Linked DNA regions of Homo sapiens: regions 2, 3, 4, 5, 6 and 7 are each linked to region 1. Evidence: fine-mapped expression QTL. A gene starts in region 1. Each other region holds a variant in brackets. All regions are shown on one strand. Distances are between the middles of the regions. Region 1 holds the start of VSIG10L (V-set and immunoglobulin domain containing 10 like). Region 2 has its middle 19 kb from the start of SIGLEC10. Region 3 has its middle 4.6 kb from the start of SIGLEC10. Region 4 overlaps ETFB (electron transfer flavoprotein subunit beta). Region 5 overlaps SIGLECL1 (SIGLEC family like 1). Region 6 has its middle 14 kb from the start of SIGLEC10. Region 7 holds the start of KLK14 (kallikrein related peptidase 14).

Region 1 (4,066 bases):
AACTTCTCCCTTTGCTGATCCCACTTAAGCAAATTAGTTCTTTCCTTTTCTAACTCCCACTCTTTGCCATTTAACTCCGCTTGTCGACTTTGTCGAGTGTTCCATGCCCAGGAATGTCCGCCCTCTCAGTGCTGGGCCGGCCCGTCAGTCCTGGTCATCCCTGCCACTCTATTTGGCTCCTTCCCTTATCCTCTTTCTGGCCCCGCCTCTTATCCTAGGTGTCTCCGCCCCTCCGCGCTGGCCCGCCCCACCACGGGTATCCCAGCTCCTTCTTGGTGACCCGCCCTCCCGCTGGCCCTGCCCCACCCACCGGTATGCTGCTCCTCCTTGCTGGCCCCGCCCCTTTCCTCTAGCCCCGCCCTCGTTCTGGCCCCGCCCCTCTCCCAGGCATTCCCCTACTCCCGCTCCAGCCTCTCACCCGCCACTGTAAGGTTGAGCAGCGAGCGGCGGCGGCGGCCGGTACGCGGGTTCGCCGCCAGGCAGGCGTAGGTGCCTGCGTGGCCCGGTCCGACCGCGGGCAGCAGGAGGCGCGACCCCGCGGGCACCGCGGCCTCGGCCGGGTCCGCCAGGCTCCACGTGATGTCGGCGGGCGGCCGCGAGGCGGCGGCGCAGCGCAAGGTCACGTTACTGCCCGCGGTGACAAAGCGGGCAGGCGCGGCGTCGCGGTCCGAGGAGACCGTGATGGTCGGCGGGTCCGGGCCGTCTGGAGGGAGGAGGGGTCGGGACCGCGAGTGTCAGGGTCACCTGGGACGCCGCTAGGACTCCCGGAGACTGGGTCCCCAGCCCGCTTCTCCCCAAGGACCCCCTGTCCCCGACCCGAGGCATCCCCCACTCACAGAAGACGCTGACGTCGGCGGCAGCCTCCCTGTGGCCGAAGGGGCTGCGGACGCGGCAAGTGTACCGGGCGTGGTCGCTGCGCACAGGGCGCACGATGAGCAGCTGGTCGCCCTCTGAGCGCATCCGGGGCGTCTCGGCTCCCTCCGATTCCGCCGCCTCCAGGGCGCGTCCGTCCCGGCTCCAGCTCAGCTCCCCGCGACCTGGCCCCCACCCCAGGCAGCGCAGCCGGAGCTCGGCCGCCCCCTCCTCTGTCTCTGGAGCCTTGGGCTGAACCGACAGCTGGGGTAGGGGCTCTGGGAGAGGGAGAATGGGCTCAGGACCCACCCAGTCCTGGAGCCCATCTTTGGTCCCCTTAGAGGGAACCCCAGCCGCTGCTCCCTCTAAGCCCCTGGAGTCTCAGCCCCCATCCCTCTCCTCTCATAAACCTATGAGTTTGAGCCCCCAGACACCTCCTCTCCGGGACCCAGGAGTTCGCCAGAAGAGGCTCCTAGCCTCCTCCTCCTCCCTCAGACCTGGGAGTTCAGGCTCCCAGGAGTCTCCATCCCAGGTCCACCTTTGCTCAGACACCCCTGCCTTGACCTCTAGCTCTTTTTCTCCCTTCCTCAACCCAGAAGTCCTCTTCTCCTATCCAGGGACCCCACAGCACCGTGACTTGCCCAAAGCCTGGCAGAGCAGAGCAGCCCCTGCCGCCTGCACGCCGGACGCCAGGGCCCACTTACCATACACACCCACCGTGAACTCGTGAGTCTGCTGGGAGACCCCTGCCCGGATGACCTCAGCCGTGTAGACCCCTGCATCGTCCAGCTGGGCAGAGGCGAGCTCCAGAACCCCCCGGGCCTGGTCAAATCGCAGGTGGTCTCGGTGAGCAGGGTCCAGGCTGATCAGAGGTGCCCCTGGCCCCAGGCCCCCAGCTGCCAGCACCTTTGAGCCCCGGCGCCAGACCACCAGAGAGGTGGGGGGCCCAGGGTTGGGGATTGGGACTAGGGGGAGCCGGATGGTGGTCCCCACCAGCACAGCGAGTGGGCCCCCCACCTGCTGGGGAAAGCTTGCAGCTGAGTGGGTCTCTGCAGAAAATTTGGATTCAGGGCTCTGGGCAGAGAGTTTAAGATCCATATCATCCGGGGAGAATTTTGAATCTGGGGCCTCAACAGACAGTTTGGTATGGGAGACTTGAGTAGAAATGTTTGAAGCTGGGGTCTTAACAGTGAAGGAAGGCTTGGGGTCTTTGGCAGGAACTTGAGGATCCGAAATATCAGGAAATACTTCAGAACCAGGGGTTTCAGAGAAGGGGGAAACCGGGCTCAAATCTTGGCCCTCAGCAGAAACATTTGACCAGAAGGACCCAGACATGTTGGAACTCAGGGCCTCAGGAAACCAGCTGGAATCAGAGATTCCAGCAGAGGCTTTTGAATCCAGGAACTGATCTGGAACTTTCCAGCTGGGAGGTTTGATGGAGGGAACTTCCACACCCAGCCCCTGGGAAGAGCTCTTTGAGTCTGAAGAGAAGGCAGAGGAGAAGTTGGTTTGCTGAAGTCCAGAAGAGGCTCTGAGGGTGAGGATCCCTACCAAGGAGGCTGCAGAGAAGAGAGGAAGGCATTGGGGGAGGCTGCTGAGGGAGACTGACAGGGAAGGGACTGAGCAGGGAACTTACCCAGGAGTAGGAAGAGTGGCAGAGCCTGTGGGTTGTCCATGGTGCTGGCCTCACTGAAAGGACACTGGAGAGAGACCCAGGACTGCACCCATCCCTCCCGGGTCAGACGAGTCCAACAGGACTGGTAGCTTAGCTTCCTGGGAGGGGAAGGGAGCCAGACCCAGAGGGAGGTGCCAAGATCCTCAACCCCAGTGTGGTGGCTGAGCTGCCCACCTCATCCCACTCTCTTCATTAGCTGGTCCCATCTGCAGAGAGGCCCAGCCTGATCCCTGCCCTCCCCACCCCCAGGGGGAAGCTGGAGAAAACATTCCCAGCTAAAAATGTGGGAGCAAATTTGTGAGACAAAGCCAGGAAGACTTCCTGGAGGAGGGTGAGGTGACCTTTCCGAGAGCCCCACCTCTGATGGCCACAGCTTCAGAGCAGGCTTCCTCCTCCCCAGCCTCCTGGCTCCTTCCACTCTGTCTTGCCTGCAGCCTCAGATACATCTGACCCTGCTCCTCCTCTGCTCCAAACCCTCCCACGGCTCTCTGTTGCCCTCAGAACCAAGTCTCCAGGTGCTATCTCCTGCCAGGGCCTCTATCCTGAGACCAGAGCTGCATTTCCGCATCCCCGAGGCCCTCACATGGCCTGTGTCCCGCTAAACTCAGACTCTTTCCTCTAACCCAAACTTCCTCACACCTCCAGGATGGCTTCACTGTCTTCGCAAATGCTGGAGAACATTCCCACCTCCTCCCTCCCTGTCACCACTGTCGATCTGAGTCCAACCCTCCTCCCCCTAGTTCTCACTGGCCAGGCTCTGTCTTCTCTTCCTGCCCCGTCTCCCTCCTCTGCCCAGTCTCCTCCATTCCCTGCCAGGGTCCTTCTATACCCAGAGCTGAACCTGCCTCCCCCTGCTCACAGCCCTCCCCTGGCTCCCCAGTGCCCTCTGGAGACATCCAAGGTTCAAAGCAAACTCATGCACAGCCCCCACTCAAGCACTTGAACATCCTGCCATTCTTATCCTGCCCGCCCATCTCACCTCCCAGTCCTCTACCTGGAATGCTCTCTCCCACTCTCCACCTCCCTCCAACCTGGCTAAACCACAACTTGTCCTTCAGGTCTCACCTTATTAAGAACCATAATTACCACTTAATTTGAGCCAGGAACTACGCTAAATGTTTCCTATGCACTATCAGGCTGAACACTTCTAAACACCCTATAAGCTGAGTGTCATTATACTCACTTTGCAGGCCAGGGGACTTAGGCTCAGAGAGGTCAAGGGACCTGCAGGAGGTTGCACAGCCAGAGGGAGAAGCTGGACTTGGGACCAGGATGGTCAGACCATTGACTCCTTCTGATAGCTTTTCCCACCATCCCATGTGGAGCTTAGGGCCTCTGCTCAGCTCCCAGTCCTCTAAGCTTACCCTGGCCCAGTTCTCACCAGTAATAATACTGGTAATATATATATATTTTGAGATGGAGTCTCGTTCTGTCACCCAGTGAGTGCCTCAGCTCACTGCAGGCTCCATCTCCCGGGTTCAAGTGATTCTCCCGTCTCAGCCTCTGCAGCAGCTGGGAGTATAGGTGTGCATCACCACA
Region 2 (4,066 bases), 95 kb after region 1:
CTGGGATTACAGGCGTGAGCCACCATGCCCCAGCCCAGCTTCTCCTTCTATTTTAAGGCTGAGTAATATTCAATTGCATGTATACAATACACTTTGTTTATTCATTCACTTTTTAGGAATAGCAGGGTTGCTTTTCCCTTTTACCTACTGTGAATATGCTTCTGTGAACACAGATGCATAAAACTATGCTCAAGTTCCGGCTTTTGATCTTTTGGGCCATATACCCAGAGGTGAAATTGCTGGATCATAAGATCATTCTATTTTTAATTTTTTTGAGGAACCCCACTACTACTCTCTAGAGCAACTTCACCATTTAACTTTCCCATCAGCAATGCACAAGAGTTCCAATGCATAAGAGATCACATGGACAGCTCAGCAAGCTGAATAATGGCCACCCAAAGAAATACAGTCTCAGCTCCTTGAACTTCTAAATATTACCTTACAAATAAAGTGTCTTTGTATAATTTTTTTTGAGACAGTCTCACTCTGTTGCCCAGGCTGGAGTGCAGTGGTGCGATCTCAGCTCACTGCAACCTCCGCCTCCCAGGTTCAAGTGATTCTCCTGCCTCAGCCTCCTGAGTAGCTGGGATTACAGACGCCCGCCGCCACACCCAGCTAACTTTTGCATTTTTGGTAGAGACCAGGTTTCACCATGTTGGCCAGGCTGGTCTCGAACTCCTGACCTCGAGTGATCCACCAGCCTCAGCCTCCCAAAGTGCTGGGATTACAGGCATGAGCCACCATACTTGGCCACTGTGCAGAGAATACTGTAGCCACATGGAATACATGTGGTTAGGGCACTGTGTTAGCTAGTCTGGGCTGCCATAGCAAAATACTATAAATTAAGCCTCCTATAAACAACAGAAATTTATTTCTCACAATTCTGGAGGTTAGAAGTCCAAGGTTAGAAGATCAAGTTGTCAGATGATTTGTTTTCTTGTGAGGCTCTGTTTCCTGGCTTGTAGATGCCACCTTCTCACTGTGTCCTCACATGGTTGAGAGACAGCAAGTTCTGTGGGGTCTCTGCTTATAAGGGCACTGTATTAGTCCGTTTTCACACTGCTGGTAATGACATACCTGAGACTGGGCAATTTACCAAAGAAAGAGGTTTAATGGACTTACAGTTCCACGTGGCCGGAGAAGCCTCACAATCATGGCAGAAGGTGAAAGTCATGTCTCATATGGCGGCAGACAAGAGATGAGCTTGTGCAGGGAAACTCCCCTTTTTAAAACCATCAATCTTGTGAGAATTATTCACTATCATGAGAACAGCACAGGAAAGACCTGCCTCCATGATTCAATTACCAGCCGCAATGTCCCTCCCACAACACGTGGAAATTCATGATGAGATTTGGGTGGGGACACAGCCAAACCATATCAGGCACTAATTCCATAGTGGGTCCCCACCCTCATGACCCCATGTAACATAATTACCTACAAAAAGCCCCATCTCCAAATACATCACATTGGTGGTTAGGGCTTCAACATATGAATTTTGGGGGAACATAAACATGCAGTTCATAACAGGCATTTTACTGAAACCTTGTCATCTCCCATGCCATGAGTTTAGATCAACAAATAATCATGCGGAAAAAAAATCTATATAGAAATTTCTTACAGCAAAGCCTCTGCTCATTTTTTCGATAATCTCATTTTTTTAAATTGCAAGGAACAGAAATGAAAACCGATAGCTTAATCTGGAAAAGAAGGGTTTTATTAAAAAAACACGTTTGCTTAATTTTTGGCCCAGGCAGTGGGGAATCTGGGAACATCTCCTAACTCAAGGTCAAGATCAGCACATCACTGATATCCAATGTGACCCTCAGGGTGCTGTTTCTTGCTCTCCGCATGGTGGGCTGCAGGTGCCTGAGCCATCTTCATTCTCTGGCTAGCAATGTTCGTGCAATGTGAGGTCTCCCCAGCTCAAGGCTCATGCCGTTCCTGCAGCTGAAAGGGAGAGCAACACCTCCATCCTGTAAGCTCCAACAGCATCTTCCCGACAGCCACGAGGAGCCACATCCAGTTCTTTCCTCCATGTTTTTATGAGCGAATAGGTTGACTGGAGTTTGAACTTCTGGGTTCAAACCCTCAGAAGTTCAAGGTTCAATCCCCCATTGACCTATTCCCACACTCGATATCCATGATAAGAATGATTCTCAGGGTACATTGGGCTTGTTGACAAAGAAAGGAGGATTTTTTATAAGAATTTCCATCTCTGACTTTTGTCCAACAATTAGATTCTATTCCTTGTTTCTAAATGAAAATATGAAGAAACACATCCTTTCGGAACTAAAATAAATAACACTTTGAAGTTGAAACAGAGAAAATATGAGGCTGCACATGGAATTAGTAGGAAATTATGCTCTCATTTGAGGTTATTCTGATTTC[G/T]CCAAGGAAGATTTAAGCTCAAAAGGTAAGGTGGACAGGGAATCACCCCATGGTGAGACACATAGGGATATTCGGGCATAGAGTACAAGCTAATTAAGCTTGATATGTACGAGGAATTTCTCTTAGTAATCAATGAGAATGTGAAGTGTACAGAAAATAACTTTTGATGAACAAGGAAGAGCACATGAATTTACATACAAGAAATCTTTCCTCACTGGGCAAAAAGCTCATTCAATTTCTTTCTTTTTTTCAAGCCAGAGTCTCTGTCACCCAGGCAGGAGTGCAGTGGCATGATCTTGACTCACTGCAGCCTCAACCTCCTTGGTTCAAGAGATTCTTGTACCTCAGCCTCCCAACTAGCTGGGATTACAGTCGTGTGTCACCACGTCCCACTAGTTTTTTGAATTTTTGGTAGAGATGAGGTTTTGCTATGTTGGCCAGGCTGGTCTCAAACTCCTGGCCTCAAGTAATCCTCCCAGCTTGGCCTCCCAAAATGCTGGAATTACAGGTGTGAGCCATCATGCCCAGCTTTATTCAGTTCCTTAAGGAGGATGAGCAGCATTGAGCGGATGGGAATGTGCCTTCTCTGGAGACAGGTTTGCATGTAGAGATGCCATCATAATTTATAAGGACAGGTTTTCTCTTTTTTCCTATTTTTTAGAGATGGTGTTTTGCCATGTTTCCCAGGCTAGTCTCCAACTCCTGGGCTCAAATGATCCACTTGCCTTGACCTCCCAAAGTGCTGGGATTACAGATGTGAGCCACTGTGTATGGCTTTCTTTTTTCCTTTCCTTTTCTTTTCTTTTCCTTTTTAGACGGAGTCTCACTCTGTCACTCAGGCTGGAGTGCAGTGGTGCGATCTCGGCTCACTTCAACCTCCACCTCCTTGGTTCAAGCGATTCTCCTGCCTCAGCCTACCGAGTAGCTGGAACTCCAGGCGCGCACCACCATGCCCAGCTAATTTTTGTATTTTTAGTAGAGACAGGGTTTCACCATGCTGGCCAGGATGGTCTCCATCTCTTGACCTTGTGATCCGCCCACCTCGGCCTCCCAAAGTGCTGGGATTATAAGCGTGAGCCACCGCGCCCGACCCCAGGACAGGTTTTCTAAGGCTCATGGCCCTTGGCCATTTGCTGCATGATCTCCATCTCCATAGGGCTTTGTAGCAGCTCTCATTGCCTCTCCCACAATTCATGCATCAGGCAATGCCCAGGAACCACAAGAGTATAATTAATATTCACATTCAAAATCATAGTTGTTTCTATTCAATGTTATAGCATGCTTTTTTTTTTTTTTTTGGCTTTTAATGAAAAAAAGCATTGATTTCTGTTGTCTTGGAAATCAGAGGGGTAGACCTGGCTTCAACGGTGGCTGGATTTCAGGGTCCGATGATATAAGGGCTCATCTCTCTGTTTGCTTTTGGCTCTTGTTCTTGTTTGTTGTTGCTGCTGTGGTTGTTCATTTATTCTGCCTGGTTTTTGTTCTCAGGCTAATAAATGTAGGAGCTCTGATGTCCACTTTGCAGATGAGGACGCTGAGGCATACAGAGATCAAGTAATTTCCCTTCTGAGGCAGAGTCCGTGGACTTCCCACAGCCCCATGACACCCCCTTATGGCTGTGTATCCAACTCAACATTCCCTGCCCTGATCAGGGCGCCCCCTGCTGCTCACCCAGAGA
Region 3 (4,066 bases), 81 kb after region 1:
AAAATACAGCATAACAACTATTTACACCGCATTACACTGTATTAGGTGTGATAAGTAACCTGGAGATGGGAGGATGTGCAGAGGTCCCACGCAAACACTACTGTATAAGGCAGCTGAGCATTGTAGATTTTGGTATCCAAGGGGTGGGGATCCTGGAACCAATCCCCAACTAATACAGTGGAACAACTGTATCTCTTTAAAGACTGTCTGCATGTACAGCCACATTCTTAGGTACTGGAGGTTGGGACTTCAACACAGAAATTTGGTGGGGGGAGGGGGGACACAATTCAGACCCTAATATCCACCTCTCCCCATTTTTTTTTTTTTTTTTTTGAGAGAGAGTGTTGCTCTGTTGCCCAGGCTGGAGTGCAGTGGCATGATCTTGGCTCGCTGCAGCCGCTCCCTGTCTGATTCAAGCGATTCTCTTGGTGCAGGCTCACGAGTAGCTGGGACTACAGGCGCCTGCCACCACGCCTAGCTAATTTTCATATTTTTAATTTTATTTTTATCTTTTTTTTTTTTTGAGACTGGGTTGTGCTCTGTCACCCAGGCTAGAGTGCACTGGCATGATCTCAGCTCACTGCAACCTCTGCCTCTCGGGTTCAAACGATTCTGCGTCAGCCTCCCGAGTAGCTGGGATTACAGGCGCCTGCCACCATGCCCAGCTTATTTTTGTATTTTCAGTAGAGACAGGGTTTCACCGTGTTGGCCAGGCTGGTTTCGAACTCGTGATCTCAGGTGACCCTCTCACCTCGGCCTCTCAAAGTGCTGGGATTACAGGCGTGAGCCACCAAGCCCAGCTTCACCTTCCCTTTGATCCCTGCTTCCCTGTGACCTAATCTGGGCCTTCTCTGAGGACACCAGCCTCCTTCCCGCAGGGGAGCTCTTGTGGTGGGACACATCACACCTTCCTCTCCACAGAGCTCAGAAAAGGGCCTCTCCCAGGGAGGAGTGAGGGGAGGAAAGGTGCCTGGGTCCTGGTGGAGGTGGGTCCCTAAGGAGCTGATGATCTCTAGGGCCCCCAGCCTGGGCCCAGCCCCACCTCTGCCTTTGAACATTTCACACCCATGGGATCAGCCGACAGGAGCCAGGAGAGCGGCACCGTCTTCCTCCTCCCGCGGGTTTCTCCACATCGCTGCCCCCTCCCATTCCCCCCTCTTCACTTTTCTGAGTTCCTGTGGTTTCTGTGGCCTCCTCACCACGTCCCCTTCTCCAGCGAGGCCAGAGCCCCCGACGCCCCGACTTGCTCCCAGCCCTTCCTACCCAAGCCGCCCTCCCAGCCTTGGTCAGACAGGACTGGAGAGGCTGCCTGGGGCCCCGGGACTGGTTTCTGGGCAGCCTCAAGTCTGTTTTCTGGCCTGAGAAGGTTCGGGTTTTCCCTGAGCTGCTTCCCTCCAAAACCAGCTCCCTCAATACCAGCCTCCCACCCCCGCACCCGCCTCTCCTTCATTCAGCAGGGGCTAGGCGCCTGCTCTTCCTCCATAATTCCACACGGAGGGGTTTAGGAAGCCCCACCCAGGCTCCAGACCCCGGAGCTGCACGAGGGCACAAGTGGGCGCTGGAAGGAAGGGCGGGGACGGTGGGAGGTGGGGGAGGGAGAGGCGGGGGTGTCTGACAGGGGTCGGGGCAGGATCTCGCCCCGGGGGGCGCAGGTGCGGCGTGAGGACCGCGTCCTGAGGAGGGAGGGGCGAGGGCCAGGGTCCTGGAGAGGATGGAGAGCCCACGAGTGGCTGCAGCTGAGACCCCGAGGGAGCCCAGGAGGTTTTGTCGGAAGAAGGGCGATCTGGACCTTCCCTGACCAGCGTCTTTGTGTCCTTTGAGCTCCGGACCTGGTCCTGGGTTCCTCCCACCTCGGGCTGTGCTGCAGTTCAGGACGCCGCC[C/A]CCAGGGGGCGCTCCACCTTCAGAGCAGGCGGCACCGCGGAGCCTCGGGCCCCAGAGCCCGCGCTGTCCATGGTCCTGCAGAAGGGAGGCTCCCAAGGGAACGAGTCCCAGGCTCTGGACACGTTTGCAGACAGTACTCTCTAAAAAGGCTACTTTTCGCCACACATTAGAACAAGATCTCCTCCGGGGGAATCACATTAAAGCAAAAACGAAGTCACCATCGTCACTCCACTTCTCTCATCCCAAACCCACCCTCCCCAAGATATAAAGCCCTTCAAAATATTCACACTCTTTTTTTTTTTTTGACAGAGACTCGCTCTGTCGCCAGGCTGGAGTGCAGTGGTGCGATCTCGGCTCACTGCAAGCTCCGCCTCCCGGGTTCACGCCATTCTCCTGCCTCAGCCTCCCGAGTAGCTGGGACTACAGGTGCCCGCCACCACACTCGGCTAATGTTTTGTATTTTTTTTTTCTTACTAGAGATGGGGTTTCACCGTGTTGGCCAGGATGGTCTCGATCTCCTGACCTCGTGATCCGCCCGCCTTGGCCTCTCGAAGTGCTGGGATTACAGGCGTGAGCCAACGCGCCCGGCAATATTCACACTCTTTACAGCGTTATTCCCAAATGACTTCCACCCAGGCACATTAAGCATGTGATGTCCACATAAGAAAATGCGCTCCTGGGGGCTTTTCAGGTCATTCATCTTTGCTTTGTCTGGATTGGGGTCGTGTATATTTCAGGGGCTCTTAGCTGGGCCTCCGTCCTTTCCTTTTCAAGTCAGAATAACACGTTGCAGGGCAAGAAGAGTGAAATATCACTAGAGGATAGACTTGGATTCACCCTAATTTCTAGTGAAGGAAAAATTTTGCAAGTGCAACACTTTATTGTCAGATATAATAGTGACTTACTGGTGTGTGAGTGTGATATGACACTCACTTCAAGCATTAGTTTTCCAAAATAAGATTCAACTCCTTATGTCAAACCCCTAAGTTGTCTGTGATCTGACACCTGTTACATATGTGCATTTCAGATATTTTCCCCCATCTGTTAACTTTTCTTTTACTCTCCTGTTATTTACAGAACAGCAGGACTCTTGCTCCCCAAAACATGAGTTACCCATGAAATGATCCCCTACTGTGGATGGAAAAGAAGAGCCAAGAAGATAAAAATAGCCCTGGAATAAAGAGAACACTAGGTCCATCACAGGAGAGGGTGAAAGGTAAAGAGCCTTAAAAAGGCCAACCTAGGCCGGCATAGTGGCTCACGCCTGTAGTCCCAGCACTTTGGGATGCCAAGGCGGGAAGATCACCTAAGGTTAGCAGTTCGAGACCAGCCTTGCCGACATGGTGAAACCCCATCTCTACTAAATATACAAAAAAATCAGCTGGATATGGTGTCGGGCACCTGTAATCCCAGCTACTTGGGAGGCCGAGGCAGGAGAATCGCTTGAACCCAGGAAGCGGAGGTTGCAGTGAGCTGAGACAGCACCAGTGCACTCCAGGCTGGGTGACAGAGCAAGAATCCATCTCAAGAAAAAGAAAGAAAGAAAGAAAGAAAGAAAGAAAGAAAGAAAGAAAGAAAGAAAGAAAGAAAGAAGTCAACCTAAATGCAAGTGACTTTCAAGAAGAAACACCAATGCTGTTTAATGGAATATAACAAAATCAAGCAGCCAATCACATAAAAATCACAATGTCCAGTATATAGAGAGAAGAAAATCAGAAAAAAATTACATAAATATCACTTTCAATTGTCCAAATTTGACCAGAACTGTAAATTTACAGATCCAAGATACTCAACCTACTTGAAACAAGATATCACTCTCTCTCTTTCTCTTCTCTGTCTTTTTCTATCACACACACTCCTGCTCTCCACACAGAAAGGGACATAATAATCAAATAATTAAAACTCAGTGACAAACAGAAAATATTAAAATTAGTCAGTGAAAAATGCAAACTTCCAACCAAGAAGTAAAAATTAAAATTAGGCTGGGCCCAGTAGCTCACACCTGTAATCCCAGCACCTTAGGAGGCCGAGGTGGGCAGTTCACCTGAGGTCAGGAGTTTAAGACCAGCCTGGCCAACATGGTGAAACCCTGTCTCCATTAAAAATGCAAAAAAATGGCCAGGCGCAGTGGCTAACGCCTGAATCCCAGCACTTTGGGAAGCTGAGGCAGGCAGATCACGAGGTC
Region 4 (4,066 bases), 21 kb after region 1:
TTCTGTTGCCCAGGCTGGGGTGCAGTAGTATGATCTTGGCTCACTGCAAACTCCACCTTCTGGGTTCAAGCGATTCTCCTGCCTCAGCCTCCCCAGTAGCTGGGACTACAGGCGCCTGCCACCACGCCTGGCTAATTTTTTGTATTTTTAGTAGAGACAAGGTCTCACCGTGTTAGCCAGGATGGTCTCAATCTCCTAACCTTGTGATCCACCCGCCTCAGCCTCCCAAAGTGCTGAGATTACACGTGTGGGCCACCGCGCCCGGCCCACGCCTGGCTAATTTTTTTATTTTTAGTAGAGATGGGGTTTCGTCATGTTGGCCAGGCTGGTCTCGAACTCCTGACCTCAGGTGATCCGCCCACCTCGGCCTCCCAAAATGCTGGAATTACAGGTGTGAGCCACCACGCCCGGCCCAAGAGGGATTTTATAAAGTGATTTTCGACAGCTCTTCCTGAACCCCTGACACAGCTCAAGGACTTGTGTGGTTCTGTCCTCTAGGCTTTTCTGTCAAGCGAGTCCCTGGGCACGTGCTAGGGCACTCAGCAAGCAGGACAGCCAAGGCCAGGGAGCCACCCCAGTGACAGATCACTAACTCGGCGGGGGGCAGACAGAGAACTCGTCCCTGAGGTGACATGTGAGCCCCACGTGTGCCCTGTCAGACAAGGTGGCCTTGCTGAGAGCAGGAGGGGCAAGTGCGTGGAGCCCAAAGAGGAAAACCTGAAGAAACACCAGGCGCTCCCAGACGAGAGGGTGTGGCTGGTCGGGGTTGGGCCCCGAGATGGAAACACGTTTTCTGGGCCTGGAGTTTCTATCCTGTGGGGTCATCTCTAAGAAAATGAATCCCAGATAATGAATACAAAATTGCCCAGCCTCTCCTGGGTTTTTTTTTTTTTTTTTTTTTTTGTGAGACGGAGTCTCCCTCTGTCACCCAGGCTGGAGTGCAGTGGCACGATCTCGGTTCACTGCAACCTCCGCCTCCCTGGTTCAAGCGATTCTTCTGCCTCAGCCCCCCGAGTAGCTGGGACTACGGGCACGCGCCGCCATGCCCAGCTAATTTTTGTATTTTTAGTAGAGACAGAGTTTCACTCTGTTGGCTAGGATGGTCTTGAACTCCTGACCTCGTGATCCACCCACCTCAGCCTCCCAAAGTGTGTGTTTACAGGCGTGAGCCACCAGGCCCAGCCTTTCTCCTGGGGTCTTGAAAGAGGCCCTGAAGGTTAAGCTTCATCAGCTTCCTGTAAAATGTGCCCCTGAACAGGACAGGGTGTTACTGAGTTGCCAAATACCTATTAAAATGTTAGATACACGCACATACCCAGAAACATACACACAGCCGGACACACATACACACACACACACACACACACACACACACACACACACACACGAATACACTCTGAGCACAGCATTTGTTATGTTTTGAATAAATGACTAACTAAACATCCATTACTACTACTCCCAATAAAAACACTTATTGCAGCTGGTCACAGTGGCTCACACCTGTAATCCCAGCACGTTGGGAGGCTGAGGCGGGTGGATTACCTGAGGTCAGGAGGTCTAGACCAGCCTGGCTAACATAGCAAAACCTCGTTTCTACTAAAAATACAAAAATTAGCCAGGCGTGGTGGCTCACACGTGTAATCCCAGCTACTCAGGAGGCTGAGGCAGAGTTGCTTGAACCTGGGAAGTGGAGGTTCCAGTGAGCTGAGATCATGCCACTGCACTCCAGCCTGGGCAACAGAGATAGACTCCGTCTCAAAAAATAAAACAAAACAAACCACTGTGTGCCAGGCACTGTTCCAAGGGCTTATTTAATTTTCATTACAACTCAATAAAGTAGATAGTACCATCATCCCCATTGTACAGAGTAGAAAAATGAGGCTTAGAGTGGTGAAGCAATTTCCTCAAGGTCACACAGCAGGAAGTGGACGCAGGCGCTGGGCTTGGAGTCTGAGGTCTGCACTATTCTAGTAGTGAACCCACTGTCTCAGGAAGCAGTGACCACATCAAACTGTCTCCCCCACACCTGGAGCTCAAATTCCAGAAGGGGCGACAGACACCAGAGCAATCAATAAGTAAACAACACTGTGGATTACAAAGTGTCCACACCAGCTTCCCTCTGGGGACAAGCTGGGCTCTCAGAGGGTGCCCCTGCTCCCACCTCCTTCATGGAGAATGTGAGTCACTCCCTCCACTCAGTTAGGTTGGCTCCTTGAACTTTCATCTCTAGCAAACATACTTTCCTCT[C/T]CCTTTCTAGTTGCTAAGTATAGGGGAAAACACAGCAAAACACAGGGACCTGGGGCCTGTGATTTTAAGGAGGCAAGCAGGGAAGTCCTCCCAGAGAAGGTGATGTTTGAAAAGGAGGTGAAAGAGGTCAGGGAGTGAGCACGTGATTCTGGGAACAGAGGTGGATCAGACATGGCCCCTCTCTGCAGGGAGCTACCAGCCTGGGGATGATGGAGTAGGGCAGTGGGGAACATGGGGTAAACAGAGGATCCCAATCCAGTCTGGCGAGGGCTGATGGAAGCAAATCTAGGGACTGCAGAAGCCCCCAGGGATATACCAAGGCAACCTGAGGGTGTAGGGTCAGGGGCTTCCTGGAGGAGGCGATGCCAGGGAGAATCACTAAATTATTATTATTATTATTTTGAGACTGAGTCTAGCTCTGTCACCCAGGCTGGAGTACAGGGACACAATCCTGGCTCACTGCAACCTCTGCCTCCCAGGTTCAAGCGATTCTCCTGCCTCAGCCTCCCGAGTAGCTGGGACTACAGATACGTGCCACCATGCCTGGCTAATTTTTTTATTTTTAGGAGAGATGGGGTTTCACCATGTTGGCCTGGCTGGTCTCAAACTCCTGACCTCAACTGATCCACTCGCCTCAGCCTCACAAAGTGCAGGGATTAGAGGTGTGAGCCACCGCGCCTGGCCGAGAATCACTAGATTTTGATATAATCCATGAGTTGGAGTTGGGCAGGACAAAGGACAGAAAGCAGAGGTAGGAGGGTGGTGCTGGAAGAAGGCATGGAACGGGCAAGCCGCGGCCTGGTCTGTCAGGACAGGAGGAGCAGGTCACAGTGGCAGAAGCACAAAGGGTAAGGGAGGGTCCAAGGAGGGAAGTGGACGGCTGAAGCAGACCATGAAGAGGAGGCTGGACCACAAAGCATCCCAAATGCCAGGCAGAGGGGCTGCGACTCTGTCCTGAGGGTGCTGGGGAGCCACAGGCAGGCTGGGAGCAGGGGAGAGCAGGGTGAGCTCTGGGTGCAGAAAGGCCCCTAAGGCTGGGTAGAGGTGGGCTGAGAGGGAGAGACTGGGAGTGAGGGAGGACCCGGGTGAGGGTCCAGGTGAGACAATGACACCAAGAGACAATAGGGCAAGAAGGGTGGGGGGTGGAGAACTGACAGCTTTGGGAGAAGGGAAAGAGGGTGGGACAGTACCCAGGTCTAATCTGGTGTTTAGGAAGCTGGCAGGGTCTGAATCATTTATTTGTTCTGAAAAGGACATCAACAGACACATCCAGTGAGACAGGATGTAATGCAGGGAGCCCTGGGGCACTGCGGGAGGGGAAGGCAGCACCCTCTGGAAAGGACAGTAGCTGATTCAACGCGGCCTTCACGCTTCCCCTCTGTTCTCTCCCTGAGCACACCAGAGACATCCATGTGCCAGGCTCTGTGCTGAGTGATGCTGGGACCAGAGCTGAGTCAAACGTGGGCCTGCACCATGGGGGAGACGGATCCAATCCCAGACATGCCAGGCGTGGAAGGCCAGGGCTGGGATGGAGAGAAGAGGCCCAGGGAGCTGTAGGACTCCAAAGATGTGACAGTAACGAACAGTCAGAGCAGGGAGGAAACCAAGTGTTGGGTCCCAGGACCCCAAGAGGAATGTGTCTCAAAAGGGCTACAGGTGACATCCCTGTCATGTGCTGCCAGAGGCATCATTAGGACAGGGGGCATTGAGGGAGATGGGAGAGCAGAGTCTAGAGCCAGACTTGCCCGGGGTTTCGATCGTAACTCTGCCACTTACTGGCTGGGAGATCTGACAGGCCTCAGTTTCCTCATCTATCCAA
Region 5 (4,066 bases), 81 kb before region 1:
GCAGTCCCTTGGCTATTTTTATCTGTAATCGTTAAAATGAAAGTGGCTGAGGCGGATCCTGATGCTGGCCCAATCTTGGGCTCTGGCCAGCCTGAGCTACAGCTGCTAGCCTCAGGGCTGTGGCTAAAGGGAAAAGTTAGGCTGAAATGACAGATGGCAAAGAAAATTAGAGTGGTTCACCAGAGAGTGAGAAAAGACGAACATTTCCAAGAGGGTGGAAATCTTTATAAACAGTTATTAAGAAATGAGATGAGTTAAGTGGACATTGAGGGAGTCTAAACAAAGGTCTCAGTGGAGCACTCTTAGAAATTAGGTGGAGCAGTGAGAACCTAGACTTGCCCTCCAGTGTTGAAGGTCCCCCATCAAGTCTGCTATATTTACCCTAGTTTGGAGGAATTTTAGAAGCCAGAAGGCAAACATGACAATGGGAAATCTGACCTCAGATCTCCTGAGGGGACGAACATGTGATCTAATCAAGATAAATGACAAAAGGGCCTGGGTTGCTTGGCCTGACCCCTAACTGAAGACCCAAAGTCATATGCATATTAGTAGTAAAATAGTCAGGGGATGGATAAGAGATATTTCTGGGACTCATGTGGGAGTCTTATACCTGCATTCCAAAAGGTTGGTGAAATTCTAATAGCATCTATGGTTAGATTGCGAAGACATAGGATTACAAAGTGGATGAGATTCAGGCGAAACTTTGGATGAAAATTGGAATGTTTGGACAGACTATGTAAATATGTTATGTGAATGTATTTACCTAAATGTATTATGAGGAAAGATATTGTGTCCAACTATGGAAGAGTTCCCCTACGTACTATTATGAAACAGAAGGCATGTAAATCTTCCCTTCAACCAATATTGATTGAATATGCTAAATAGGAACCAATAAGATTGCCCAAGCCCACACTAATTGTTAATTTGAAACAGTACAGGATATCTGGTGGACAAAACATGTTAGAAGCTTAACGTTTGCTTTATTTAGGCAGACTGGAGCTAAGGCCAGTGAGCACCACCCAGTGGTGAATGCTGGGATTTGGGGCCAGAAAATTTCCAATGGAGAGACAACTAGCTGCCTATTGGGCTTTGAGTCTGCCCCATCATTGAAGGATATAATAATCCTGACACCTGAAATCCTCATGATGTGTTTGTCATGTTGGAAAAACACTGTAGTAAGGAAGGCCATGCCCAAAAGAGTCTCGTAATAAAATGGAAATTGTTTATACAGGAACATGCTACCAGGGAAATGCAAGGAGGTCCTCGTTATATTTATGAACAGGTGGCTTTTTCCCTACTGAAGAGCTGCGAGATCCTATTATTACTTGAATGATGTCTATTAATAGCTCTTGATTGACCAACTAAGAGCGGTTTGATTTATGGATGGCAATTCCAAAGTGAATTAATAACATCCTGTTTGGAAGACTGGCACTCATACTGAGGAAGGCAAAAACAAGTCACTTCAGTGGGCTGAACTGCCTCCACATTTGGGTTTTTACCAATTCATGGGCAGTGGCCAATGGCCTGGCCATATGGTCAGGCAGATGGGCAATGGGAAACTGTACTATTAAAAGGATGCCTATATAGGGTACAGCCTTATGGAATTCACTATAGCCAGTATCTCAAAAGACCTGTTCATACCCCCTACAAATGATAAAATAAACAGAGAAACAGACCTCTTCCTCCCAAAAAGGCAATTAATATCCTACCTTTTATG[C/T]TGGACATTTCTTGGCAACTTTTAAAGGATTTTTACTACTTGTGTGTGCGTTCTTAAACACTTGATTTTGCCCGGTTTTTTTCAAATTTTAAAGAAATGCTCATACATTATTACTTATTTGTGTCTGGCTTTGTTCATTCAATATTTTATTTGTAAGAATGGTCCATGTTGTTGCATCTAGCATTAGCTCATAGGTTTTTGTTGCTGTGTAGTATCTCATTTTTTAAAATTCTCTGTTTACTGGCATTTGGATTGTTTACCTTTTTAGCTATTTTTAAATAATACCACTGTAAACATTTTTGCATTCCTTTGTGGCGTACATATGCACAAACATTTCTATAAAGTATACATCTGGGAGTGGAATTGAGGGTCATAGAGTATGTGTATCTTCTGCTTTGATAAATAACTTTGTTGCCCTGATTTATATTTCCACCAATAGTGTGTGAAAGTTGAGTACCACATTCTCACCAAGACTTGATATATTGTCTTGGATATGTACTGGTATCTGATGGTTTTAACAGGCATTTTGCTGGTTATTAATGAGATTTTAAATATTTTCATGGAAATTTTATTAAGATTTGTCTTATGATCCAGCTGTGGCCAATTTCTGTAAACGTTCTCTGTGTGCTTACAAAGAAATTGTATTCTGCAGTTATTGATTGCAGTATTCTCTATATATTTTTGGTCAAATTTGCTGATCAAGTTGTTGAAATCTTTATATATTCCAATAGTCTGTTTGTTCTGTCAGTTTCTGAGAGAACAGTGATTAAAATGTCACACTACTATTGTGGATGTCTGTTTCTCCTTTTATTTTTGTAGATTTTTTGCTTTATATATTTTTGGACTATGTTAGTAGGCAAACACAAATTTTAAATATATACTTTATTCCTGTTAATGTCAGCTTATCATTAGGAGATATGCCATTCTATCTTTGGTAATGCCTTTTGCTTAAAGTCTGCTTTATGGGATGTTAATGTAGGTATGTCTACATTACCTGGCTTTCTGGTTGGTATTTGCTTGGTGTATGTTTTCATTCTTTGGTTTTTTCTTTTTTTCTTTTTTTGAGACGGAGTCTTGCTCTGTCGCCCAGGCTGGAGTGCAGTGGCATGATCTCGGCTCACTGCAAGCTCTGCCTCCCAGGTTCATGCCATTCTCCTGCCTCGGCCTCCTGAGTAGCTGGGATTACAGGGGCCCGCCACCACACCCAGCTAATTTTTTGTATTTTTAGTAGAGACGGGGTTTCACCGTGTTAGCCAGGATGGTCTGGATCTCCTGACCTCGTGATCCGCCCGTCTCGGCCTCCCAAAGTGCTGGGATTACAGGCATGAGCCACCGCTCCCGGCCCATTTGGTTTTTTAACTGTCCTTTACACTTATGCTTTGGTTGTGTCTTTTGTAAACAGCATGGAGTTTGGCTTTGCTTCTTTTTTCCAATATGATGATCTTAGATTCATAACTGGATAATTTAAGCCATTTATATTTAGTTAAATCACTGATGTATTGGAGTTTAAATCTAACATCTAGGTACATGATTTCTACTTGTCCCAACCGTTCTATTCTCTTTTGTATCCCTTCTGTTTGTTTCTCTGTCTTTATTTTCAAACAAGCTTTTAAATCAAAGTACAATTTTATACAGAGAAGTATTAATACAGATAGTAAGTATACAACTCAAATTATCACAAAGGGAGCAGACCAGTGTAACCACCACTGAGGTCAAGAAATAGAACATTAACAACACCCCAAACACTCCACTCATGTACTACACCATTCATTACCCCCTTTATCCTTGCTATGTTCTGGATGCAAGCACGTTGTATGTGTTGCAAGTATGTTCTCCAGCCCTGCAACTTGCATTTGTCCTCCTTAATGGTATCTTTTGATGCAGAAATTAATTCTGATACAGTCCATTTTATCCATATTTCCTCATAGCTAGTGCTTTTTGGCCCTTTTAAAGAAATATTTCCTTACCTAAAACTTACCAAGATACTCTCCTATGTTGTATTAAAGAATTCCACTGACCAATGTGGTAGCTACTAACTACATATGGCTATTGAGCCCTTATATTATGGCTAGTCTGAATTGAAGTGTGCTGTAAGTGTAAAATATATACAAGATTTTGAAGAGTGTATAAAGAATGTACCAAATCTTAACAATTTTGTGTTGATTGCATGTTGAAATATTGGGTTAGGTTCAATATGAATAACCTAGTGAATAACCTAGGTTTCTTTCACTAGGTTAAATGAAACATCATTAAAATTAATTTTACCCATTTCTTCCTTTTTAATGTGGCTGCTAGAAAATTTAAAATTATACATGTAGTCCACATTTATAGGTCACATTATATTTCTTC
Region 6 (4,066 bases), 90 kb after region 1:
TCTCCCGTGCAGGGAGCAGACAATAAACCATGAACATAATTATGCAGCTGCGAGTTATTAAGCTTGATGGAGGGGAGCCGGTGCAGTGAGAGAAACAAGGTCCCAACACAATGCAGCCTCTGGGGTCCAGGAGCCCCACTGTTGTGGGGAAATGGGGTCTGGATCCCACGGTAAAGGGACGTCCATAGGAATAAGCGGGGAGGCTGACACAGCCGGGTTCTCAGGTGCGTCTTCCTCATTGGATTCTCCTGGGGCTCTGTCCTGTGAACTTCTCTTCTCTACCTGCAATCAGCTCTTACCCTTTCAAATACCTTTTAATTTTGGTAAAAAGGAAATGCAGAACATAAACATCACCATTGTCATTATGTTTATGTGTACGGTTCAGTTCTGTGAAGCATATTCATTCTGTTGTACAACCAATTTCCAGAACTCTTCCATATTGCAAAATTCACTCTGTACCCACAAAACAGCGACTTTCCATTTTCCCTGTCCTGGGTGCCTGGCAAACACCACTGTACTCACTGTTTCTGTGAATATGACTCCTTTAGAAATCTCAGTAGGTGGAACTGTGCAGTATTTGACTTTTCATGACTGTATTTCCCTTAGGATAATGTCCTCAAGGCCCAGCCTTGTGGTAGCAGGTGTCAGAATTTCTTTTCTTTTTAAGGCTGACAGGTTCAAATGTATGATTTTACCACCTTTTGCTTACTCATCTGCCTCTCCAGAAATCCACCTCTTGGCTCTGGCGAATGATGCTGCCATGAACACGGGAGTATAAATATCTATTCAAGTTCCCACTTTTTTTTTTTTTTTTTGAGACGGACTCTGGGACTCTGTTGCCCAGGCTGGAGTGCAATGACATGATCTTGGCTCACTGCAACCTCTGCCAGTCAGGTTCAAGTGATTCTCCTGCCTCAGCCTCCCGAGTAGCTGGGATTACAGGAGCCTGCCCCCATGCCCAGCTAATTTTTTTATTTTTAGTAGAGATGGGGTTTCACCATGCTGGCCAAGCTGGCCTCAAACTCCTGACCTCAGGTGATCTGCCTGTCTCGGCCTCCCAAAGTGCTGGGATTATACTCGTGAGTCACCATGCCTGGCCCTCAAGTTCCCACTTTCACTTCTTTTCATGTAGACCAGAAGTGGAGTGGCTGGATCCTATGTGAATTCTATTTTTAATTATTGGAGGAATTGTCATACTCTTATCATCCTCTTTCCCCATCATCTCTTGTCATCACTTTATAAAGATTTACTCTAGAGTAGTCCCCCATCCACAGTGGATAGCTTCCAAGACCCCCAGTGGATGCCTGAAACCACAGACAGGGCAAACCCTATATGTGCTACATTTTTATACACACACACACGTATGTATATCGATGATAAATTTTATTTTATTTTATTTTTTTGAGACAGAGTCTTGCTCTGTCACCAGGCTGGAGTGCAGTGGCGTGATCTCAGCTCACTGCAAGCTCCGCCTCCATGGTTCAAGAGATTCTCCTGCCCCAGCCTCCTGAGTAGCTGGGACTACGGGCATGCATCACCATGCCTGGCTAATTGTCTTCTTTGTATTTTTAGTAGAGACAGGGTTTCACCATGTTGGCCAGGATGGTCTTGATCTCCTGACCTCAAGTGATCCACCCACCTCAGCCTCCCAAAGTGCTGGGACTACAGGTGTGAGCCACCGTGCCCAGCCTCCTACTCTTTCTCTTTCTCCTACTCTGGCCTTGTAAGACCTGCCTGCTTCCCCTTCACCTTCCGTCATGATTGTAAGTGTCCTGAGGCCTTCCCAGAAGCAGAGGCTGCTATGCTTCCTGTACAGCCTGCAGATCCTTGAGCCAATTAAGCCTCTTTCCTTTCTGAATTACCCAGTCCCAGGTATTTCTTTATAGCGGTGCTAGACCTGACTATACAATATGTAACATATAGTTTGCAATTTGTAACATTCTACAGGGTACAATTCAGTGACATTAAGCACATTCACCATGTTGTGCAACCACTATTTACCGAATTTCCTCATCATCCCAAACAGAAACTCTGCACCATTTGCACAATCACCCTTC[T/C]TCCTTGCCCTGTTCCCCAGCCTCTGATACGCAATTCTACTTTCTGTCTCCATGAATTTGCCAATTCTAGGTAAGGCTACATAAGCAGAATTATATACTATTTGTCATTTTATGTGTGGCTTCTTTCATGTGGCATGTTGTTTCAAGGTTCACCCATGTTATAGCATGTATCAGTTCCATTCAATTTTTAAGGCTAAAGAATATCCCATATTATGGATATGGAACCTTTTTTCTATCCACTTATCAGTCAATGGACGCGAGTTTTTTTTTTCCCCACCTTTTAGCTCTTGTAAATAATGCTGCTATGAACATTGATGTATAGGTATCTGTTTAAGTTCATGCTTTCAATTCTGGGAACATATCTAGGAATCGATGGCTGGATTACACTGTATTTCTAGGCTTAACTTTCGGAGAGAATTCCAAAGAGTTTTCCACAGGGTCACACCATTTTACATGCAGTGCAAAGGGGCTCCCACTTGTCCATATTCTTGCAAACAATTAGTATTTTTTTTTCTTTTGAGACGGAGTCTCAATCTCTCGCCAGGCTGGAGTGCAGTGGCACCATCTCGGCTCACTGCAACCTCCACCTCCTTGGCTCAAGCAATCCTCCCACCTCAGCCTCCCGAGTAGTTGGGACCACAGGTGCTCACTGCCACGCCCGGCTAATTTTTGTATTTTTTGTAGAGATGAGGTCTCACCATGTTGCCCAGGCTGGTCTTGAACTCCTGACCTCAAGCAATTCTTCCTCTTTGGCCTCCCAAAGTGTTAGGATTATAGGCGTGAGCCACTGTGCCCAGCTTATGCTTTATATTTTAAGAGTTCTAGTGACAGTGCAGTGGCATCTTATGTTTAATTTTTAAAAATTTACTTAAAGTTAGATATGGTTGAATTCATTCTTTATCATATGTAATTTTATGTGGGTTGACCGATGCATATAGTTATATACACAACCGCTGTGAAGACAATGAAAAGTGTCATTACCTGAACATTTCCTCCCTCTGCTGACTCTAGGTAGTCAATCCTCCCTCTACACTTAGTCCCTGAGAAAACACGGATCTATTCTCCATCCCTGCCATTTTGCCTTTTTATAGAATGTCATATAAATGGAATCATACAAAATGTATCCTCTAAAATCTGGCTTCATTTACTTGGCATAATGCTTTTGAGGCTCATCTATGGGGCTGGGTATAAATCTGTCATTTTAGTTTAATTGTTGACTGGTGCTCCATTGTTTTCATGGTCTCTCATTTTGCATGTATTTGCCATTTGCGGAGCATTGCAACTGTTTTCAGGTTCTGGTGACTCTAAAATAATGTTGCTATAAACATTCCATTCAACTTTCTGCGTGTGAACATAAGTTTTTAATTCCCTTGAGTAAAAACCTAGGAGTCGAGTGCTTGGTCAGACGTACACTTGGTCAAGTGTAAGTTTAAATTTATACAAAATTGACAAACTATTCTCCAAAGTGTATATACCATTTTGTATTCCTACCAGCAGTAGACATGAGCTCTGATCACTTCACATCCTTGCTAGCATGTGATATCATCCACATATTTTAAAATTTCTTGTTACCTTTGTTGTACTTTTCAGTCATTTTTCTTAGGTATGTAATTCTACCTCATTCTTCTTCTATTCTACAATTACCTAATGACAAATTATATTGAGGCTATTTTCACGGCCTTGTTCGCCATCTGCTTTTCTTTTTTGGTGAGGTGGCTATGAAATCTTCAGTAGCTTTTTTCTTAATTGTGGTAAAATATACAGAAGAAAAAAATTACCGTTTTAACTATTTTTCAGTGTTTAGAGAAGTTGCACCAAGTACACTCACGTTGTTATGAATCACTATGATTTATCTCCAGAAGTTTCTTCACCTTCCCAAACTGAAACTGCATCAAAGAGGTGAAAACCCCCTATTTCTTTCTGATCACAGCCCCTGGCAAGCATGGCTCTACTTTCCGTGTCTGTGAATTTGCCTCCTCTACACACCTCATATAAGTGGAATCATACAG
Region 7 (4,066 bases), 260 kb before region 1:
TGCACAGACCATGCCAGGCGTGATGGTTCTAGGATAGGCCTTCTGGCACACCTCATCCGGGGAGATGTTGATGTTCACGCATTGCAGAGAGGCGGGGTACCTGGCTGGGGGACACTGCAGGGTTATAACTGGGTCTACCCTCCCATAAGACCCAAGGGTCCAGGCCCCCAGCCCCTCCTCCTTCCGACCCAGGAGTCCAGCCCCAGCACCTCCTCCCTCAGACCCAGGAGTCCAGGCCCCCAGCCCCTCCTCCCTCAGACCCAGGAGTCCAGACCCCCAGTCCCTCCTCCCTCAGACCCGGGAGTCCAGGTCCCCAGCCCCTCCTCCCTCAGACCCAGAAGTCCAGGCCCAGCCCCTCCTCCTTGAGACCCAGGAGTCCAGGCTCCAGCCCCTCCTCCCTCAGACGTATGAGTCCAGGCCCAGCTCCTCCTCCTTGAGACCCAGGAGTCCAGGCCTCAGCCCCCTCCTCCCTCAGACCCAGGAGTCCAGGCCCAGCCCCTCCTCCCTCAGACCCAGGAGCCCCAGTCCCCCCAGCTCCACCTCCTGGAGACCCAGGAGCCCAGGCCCAGTCCCCTGCTTTCCAAGACGCAGGAGTCCTCACCGATGGGGCTGGATATAGTTCCCCAGCCTGACACTCGGCAGGAGGTCCCGGGGCTGGCACAGGCCTGGGTGACCTCAATGGGCCTGACTGCCCTCCCGATCCGTGCGGGCTGCTGTAGCTGCAGCAGCATGAGGTCGTTGTCGTGGGTCCGGGAGTTGTAGTTGGGGTGCGTCACCTGACGAACCACGCGCAGCACCTGCTGGGTGGCCTCCCACCTCCTCAGGTTGTGCTTGCCCAGGGCAACCTGAAGGATCCTGGCCACGACCCCCAAGAGAAGCGCTGCTCAGGGTCTGAGCCAGAGACTCCTCCCCACCCTCCAGCCCGGTTCCCTGGCCGGGTGACGAGTCTTCCCCGAGGTCTAGCCTGCTTCTCACTAACTGCAGGCCGAGCATTCTTGGCCTCCTGTGCCCTTCCCCATGGCCAGGGCATTCTCTCGGCCCAGCCCCAGCTGCCTCTCCTTCCGCTCTTGGGCTGGGCTCCAGCTCCTGGCTTGGGAAGAAGGTGATGATTGGGAGAGCTTGGCTCCGTGCCAGGGTCTGTGCTGGGCTCGGTGCATTGAGTCCTAAGCGAAACTGCGTTATGAGTCTAGGCTCTAAATCGGAACTGATATTCCGGAGTAGGCACCATTCTGTTTCTAGCCTGGGTTCTGAGTTCTAGACATCTTAAACTTTTGACTCTATGCTAAGATCAGGATTCTAGATCGAACCTGGATTATGACTTGATTTATTTATTTATTTTTTTTTTGTGATGGAGTCTCGCTCTGTCACCTAGGCTGGAGTGCAGTGGCACGATCTCAGCTCACTCTCGACCTCCAACTCCCAGTTCAAGTGATTCTCCCGCCTCAGCCTCCCAAAGTGCTGGGATTACAGGCGTGAGCCACCGCACCCAGCCTCTACAGGTCTGTTTCATATTGGATTATAGGGCTCTTGGTTCTGGACTCTGGCCCTAGCCCTTGACCTCAGGTTGGGCTCTGGGTTCTAGTTGGAGCTCTAGGTTATGGCCCGGATCCAAGATTCTAGAGTCTGGTTTGCATTCTGGCCTTTATATTCTAGACTCTGGCCTGAGCTTTGATCTCTAGGTTCTAGACTGACCTGTTTATGGCATAGATATGGCTTATAGGCATTTTGACCTCTTGGCTGGGGTCTGGGTTGTAAGTTCAGATCTAGAATTTAGGAGGGGTCTAGGTTTTATATGGGGCTTCTGATTAGGATCTGCATTCTGGGATTTATTGATTGATTGATTGATATGGAGTTTCGCTCTTGTTGCCTAGCCTGGAGTGCAATGGTGCGATCTTGACTCACTGCAACCTCCGCCTCCCAGGTTCAAGTGATTCTCCTGCCTCAGCCTCCCGAGTGGCTGGGATTACAGGCATGTGCCACCATGCCTGGCTAATTTTGCATTTTTAGTAGAGACAGGGTTTCTCTATGTTGCTCAGGCTGGTCTCGAACTCCTGACCTCAGGTGATCTGCCTGCCTCAGCATCCCAAAGTGCTAGGATTATAGGCATGAGCCACCGCACCCGCCACATTCTGGGATTCAAAC[A/G]CTGGGTTGAAGTCTGCTCATAGCGGAGCTATAGACTAGACTCTGAACTAAACCTTGGGTGTGAAACAGCCTCCAGGTTTTGCCTCTATTCTTAGAGTTGTATGTTCCAGCTGTGAGCAGCGTTCTAGTTCTGGATTTATGGCTAGACTGCAGGTCCTGAACTGGGCTCTGAGTTCTACGTAGTGTCCTGAGTTTCTGAATGTAGACGGGGTCCTGAATTCAGCCACCAATCTGGAATGGGCTAAGCTTGGTCTCGATGTAATGTGTGGCCTCTGGAAGAATCACTGGATCAGATGTTCGGTTCTCAGCAGGTCCATGGGTTCCAAGCTGCCCATCTGCTTTCAGAACCTATGCTGAGTTCGAGATTTATGGAGGAGCCCACATCCCGAGCTGTGTTTTTGTTCCAGGCTCTTCTCTAGACCTCAAACCAGGAGCCAGCCACTACATTGGGTTCTATACAGAGATCCAGGTTCTCAGCTCAGCTCTAGGGCTTTAGACTCTGGAATTCACTAGGTACAGGGACAGGGGAGGGGGTCACTTACGGGCGGCCGCAGTGAGCAGCAGTGATGACCCACTGGCCTGAAAGCAGGGCGCCTCCGCAGAGGAAGCGGCGCCTGGGACCCGCCAGCAGGGCCGCCTGCCACGGCTGGGAGCTCCGGGTGCACGTATGGCCACCAATTATCTTGTTCTCATCCTCTTGGCTCTGTGTCATGGCTAGGAGTGGACAGGATTGGGTGGGGAAAGTAGATGAGCAAACACTCTCCACTCCACAAGTTTGTAGGATTCCAAAACTGACAAATCCCCTTCCTTTTGGTCTAACCCCTAAACTGCCCGCCTCTATCTGTCCCACCCAGGGTGAGACATGCCCAATATTGACCCCGTTATTGCCCCAGCACGGAGAGCTTTCTGACTCACCTCCCAAGTCACCTCCGTAGCATCTCTTATTTTGTGCCGTGGCCACCTTATCCAGGGCCTTGCTACATCTACGACCCTTAGCTCTATGCTCCCATAATTTCTGTGATCACTTCTCGAAATATGCCACATTTCCCCCCAATGAGTCCTTCCCCAACACATTCAAGGACCTCCCTGTCTCCTCCCCAACGTTCCCACTCAGTGGGACCCCAAGGATCCGCCATCTCTTGCCCCACACTTGCCCCCATCCACCTCACACACCCATGCCACGATCCCGCCACCCCATGCCACGATCCCGCCATCCCATCATCCTTCTCCACCTTCCCTCTGACAACAAAACATCTTTCTGACATTGTTTCTTTCCTAACACAGTCAGGTAGAGCCCCGTGATCTTTCTGCTATGACCCACTCAGGACCTAATAGTTCCCTAAGATTCCTTATGTATTTTGCACCAGACCTTATAAACACCTCTCTCCCCGGCCCCACAATTCCCTAGCACCTCCACAACTAGGAATTTAGGCCTCCAGCACGTTCCCCCACCATGACCCCCAAACCACTCCCTGCTCTTTCTTATGAGGTCACCATGAGCATCCAGGGGCCCCAAGGACCCATCCCCATCTCTTCTCAGAGTCTCCAGGGGACCCCCTTGTGTCATACCCAACCGTTCTCTTACCTATAGCCAGGACTTGAAGTGCTGTCAGCAGGAGGAACATTTTAGGGGCTGAGGGCCAGGTCCTGTCAAATGCAGAGAAAAAGTGAGAGAGAAGGAACCTTCAACAGAACCGGGGGCTGAGAGGCAGAGACAGCAAGGGGCACTTACCCAGAGCCCAAGACCCTCAGGGACATGAAGACACAGCAGAGAGGTAGGGACCAGAGACGAGGGGGGCGGGGCCTGCAGGCTCTGCGGGCGGCAGGTGGGAGGATGTGGAGCAGGGCACAGGTCCCTCCTTGATGTCTTGATGAAGGAAGGAGGGGAGGTGTCTCTCTTCCTAGTCACACTGGCAAAGCCTTT

The links. PIP is the estimated chance that this variant, and not a neighbour inherited with it, causes the effect.
Region 2: its variant is the best candidate, but not a certain one, in a credible set for the expression of VSIG10L in whole blood (INTERVAL, PIP 0.64).
Region 3: its variant is the best candidate, but not a certain one, in a credible set for the expression of VSIG10L in whole blood (TOPMed, PIP 0.85).
Region 4: its variant is the best candidate, but not a certain one, in a credible set for the expression of VSIG10L in esophagus muscle (GTEx, PIP 0.86).
Region 5: its variant is the best candidate, but not a certain one, in a credible set for the expression of VSIG10L in cerebellum (GTEx, PIP 0.83).
Region 6: its variant is the best candidate, but not a certain one, in a credible set for the expression of VSIG10L in whole blood (TOPMed, PIP 0.88).
Region 7: its variant is the best candidate, but not a certain one, in a credible set for the expression of VSIG10L in caudate (GTEx, PIP 0.76).

What each region holds. Positions count from the first base shown.
Region 1 is chr19:51,339,597-51,343,662 of GRCh38, forward strand. It overlaps VSIG10L (V-set and immunoglobulin domain containing 10 like), which reads right to left and starts at 2,543. Exons shown (of 10, transcript NM_001163922.3): 1 at 2,489-2,543; 2 at 1,557-2,411; 3 at 837-1,130; 4 at 419-703. The coding sequence starts at 2,528. VSIG10L-AS1 (VSIG10L antisense RNA 1) reads left to right here and starts at 424. Exons shown (of 5, transcript NR_186316.1): 1 at 424-1,121; 2 at 1,470-1,578; 3 at 2,254-2,389. RefSeq lists a silencer at 308-577.
Region 2 is chr19:51,434,381-51,438,446 of GRCh38, forward strand. No RefSeq gene overlaps it. Among named protein-coding and RNA genes, the nearest start is that of SIGLEC10, 19 kb to the left of the region's middle. The variant G/T (reference allele first, on the strand shown) is at 2,389.
Region 3 is chr19:51,420,216-51,424,281 of GRCh38, forward strand. No RefSeq gene overlaps it. Among named protein-coding and RNA genes, the nearest start is that of SIGLEC10, 4.6 kb to the left of the region's middle. The variant C/A (reference allele first, on the strand shown) is at 1,882.
Region 4 is chr19:51,360,818-51,364,883 of GRCh38, forward strand. All of the region lies in intron 1 of ETFB (electron transfer flavoprotein subunit beta), which reads right to left. Among named protein-coding and RNA genes, the nearest start is that of ETFB, 3.5 kb to the right of the region's middle. The variant C/T (reference allele first, on the strand shown) is at 2,248.
Region 5 is chr19:51,258,527-51,262,592 of GRCh38, forward strand. The region is part of intron 1 of SIGLECL1 (SIGLEC family like 1); the gene reads left to right. The region is part of intron 2 of LOC107985327 (a long non-coding RNA gene); the gene reads right to left. Among named protein-coding and RNA genes, the nearest start is that of SIGLECL1, 9.5 kb to the left of the region's middle. The variant C/T (reference allele first, on the strand shown) is at 1,718.
Region 6 is chr19:51,429,299-51,433,364 of GRCh38, forward strand. No RefSeq gene overlaps it. Among named protein-coding and RNA genes, the nearest start is that of SIGLEC10, 14 kb to the left of the region's middle. The variant T/C (reference allele first, on the strand shown) is at 2,058.
Region 7 is chr19:51,078,848-51,082,913 of GRCh38, forward strand. It overlaps KLK14 (kallikrein related peptidase 14), which reads right to left and starts at 4,040. Exons shown (of 6, transcript NM_001369775.2): 1 at 3,875-4,040; 2 at 3,728-3,789; 3 at 2,685-2,856; 4 at 602-855; 5 at 1-104. The coding sequence starts at 3,767. The variant A/G (reference allele first, on the strand shown) is at 2,143.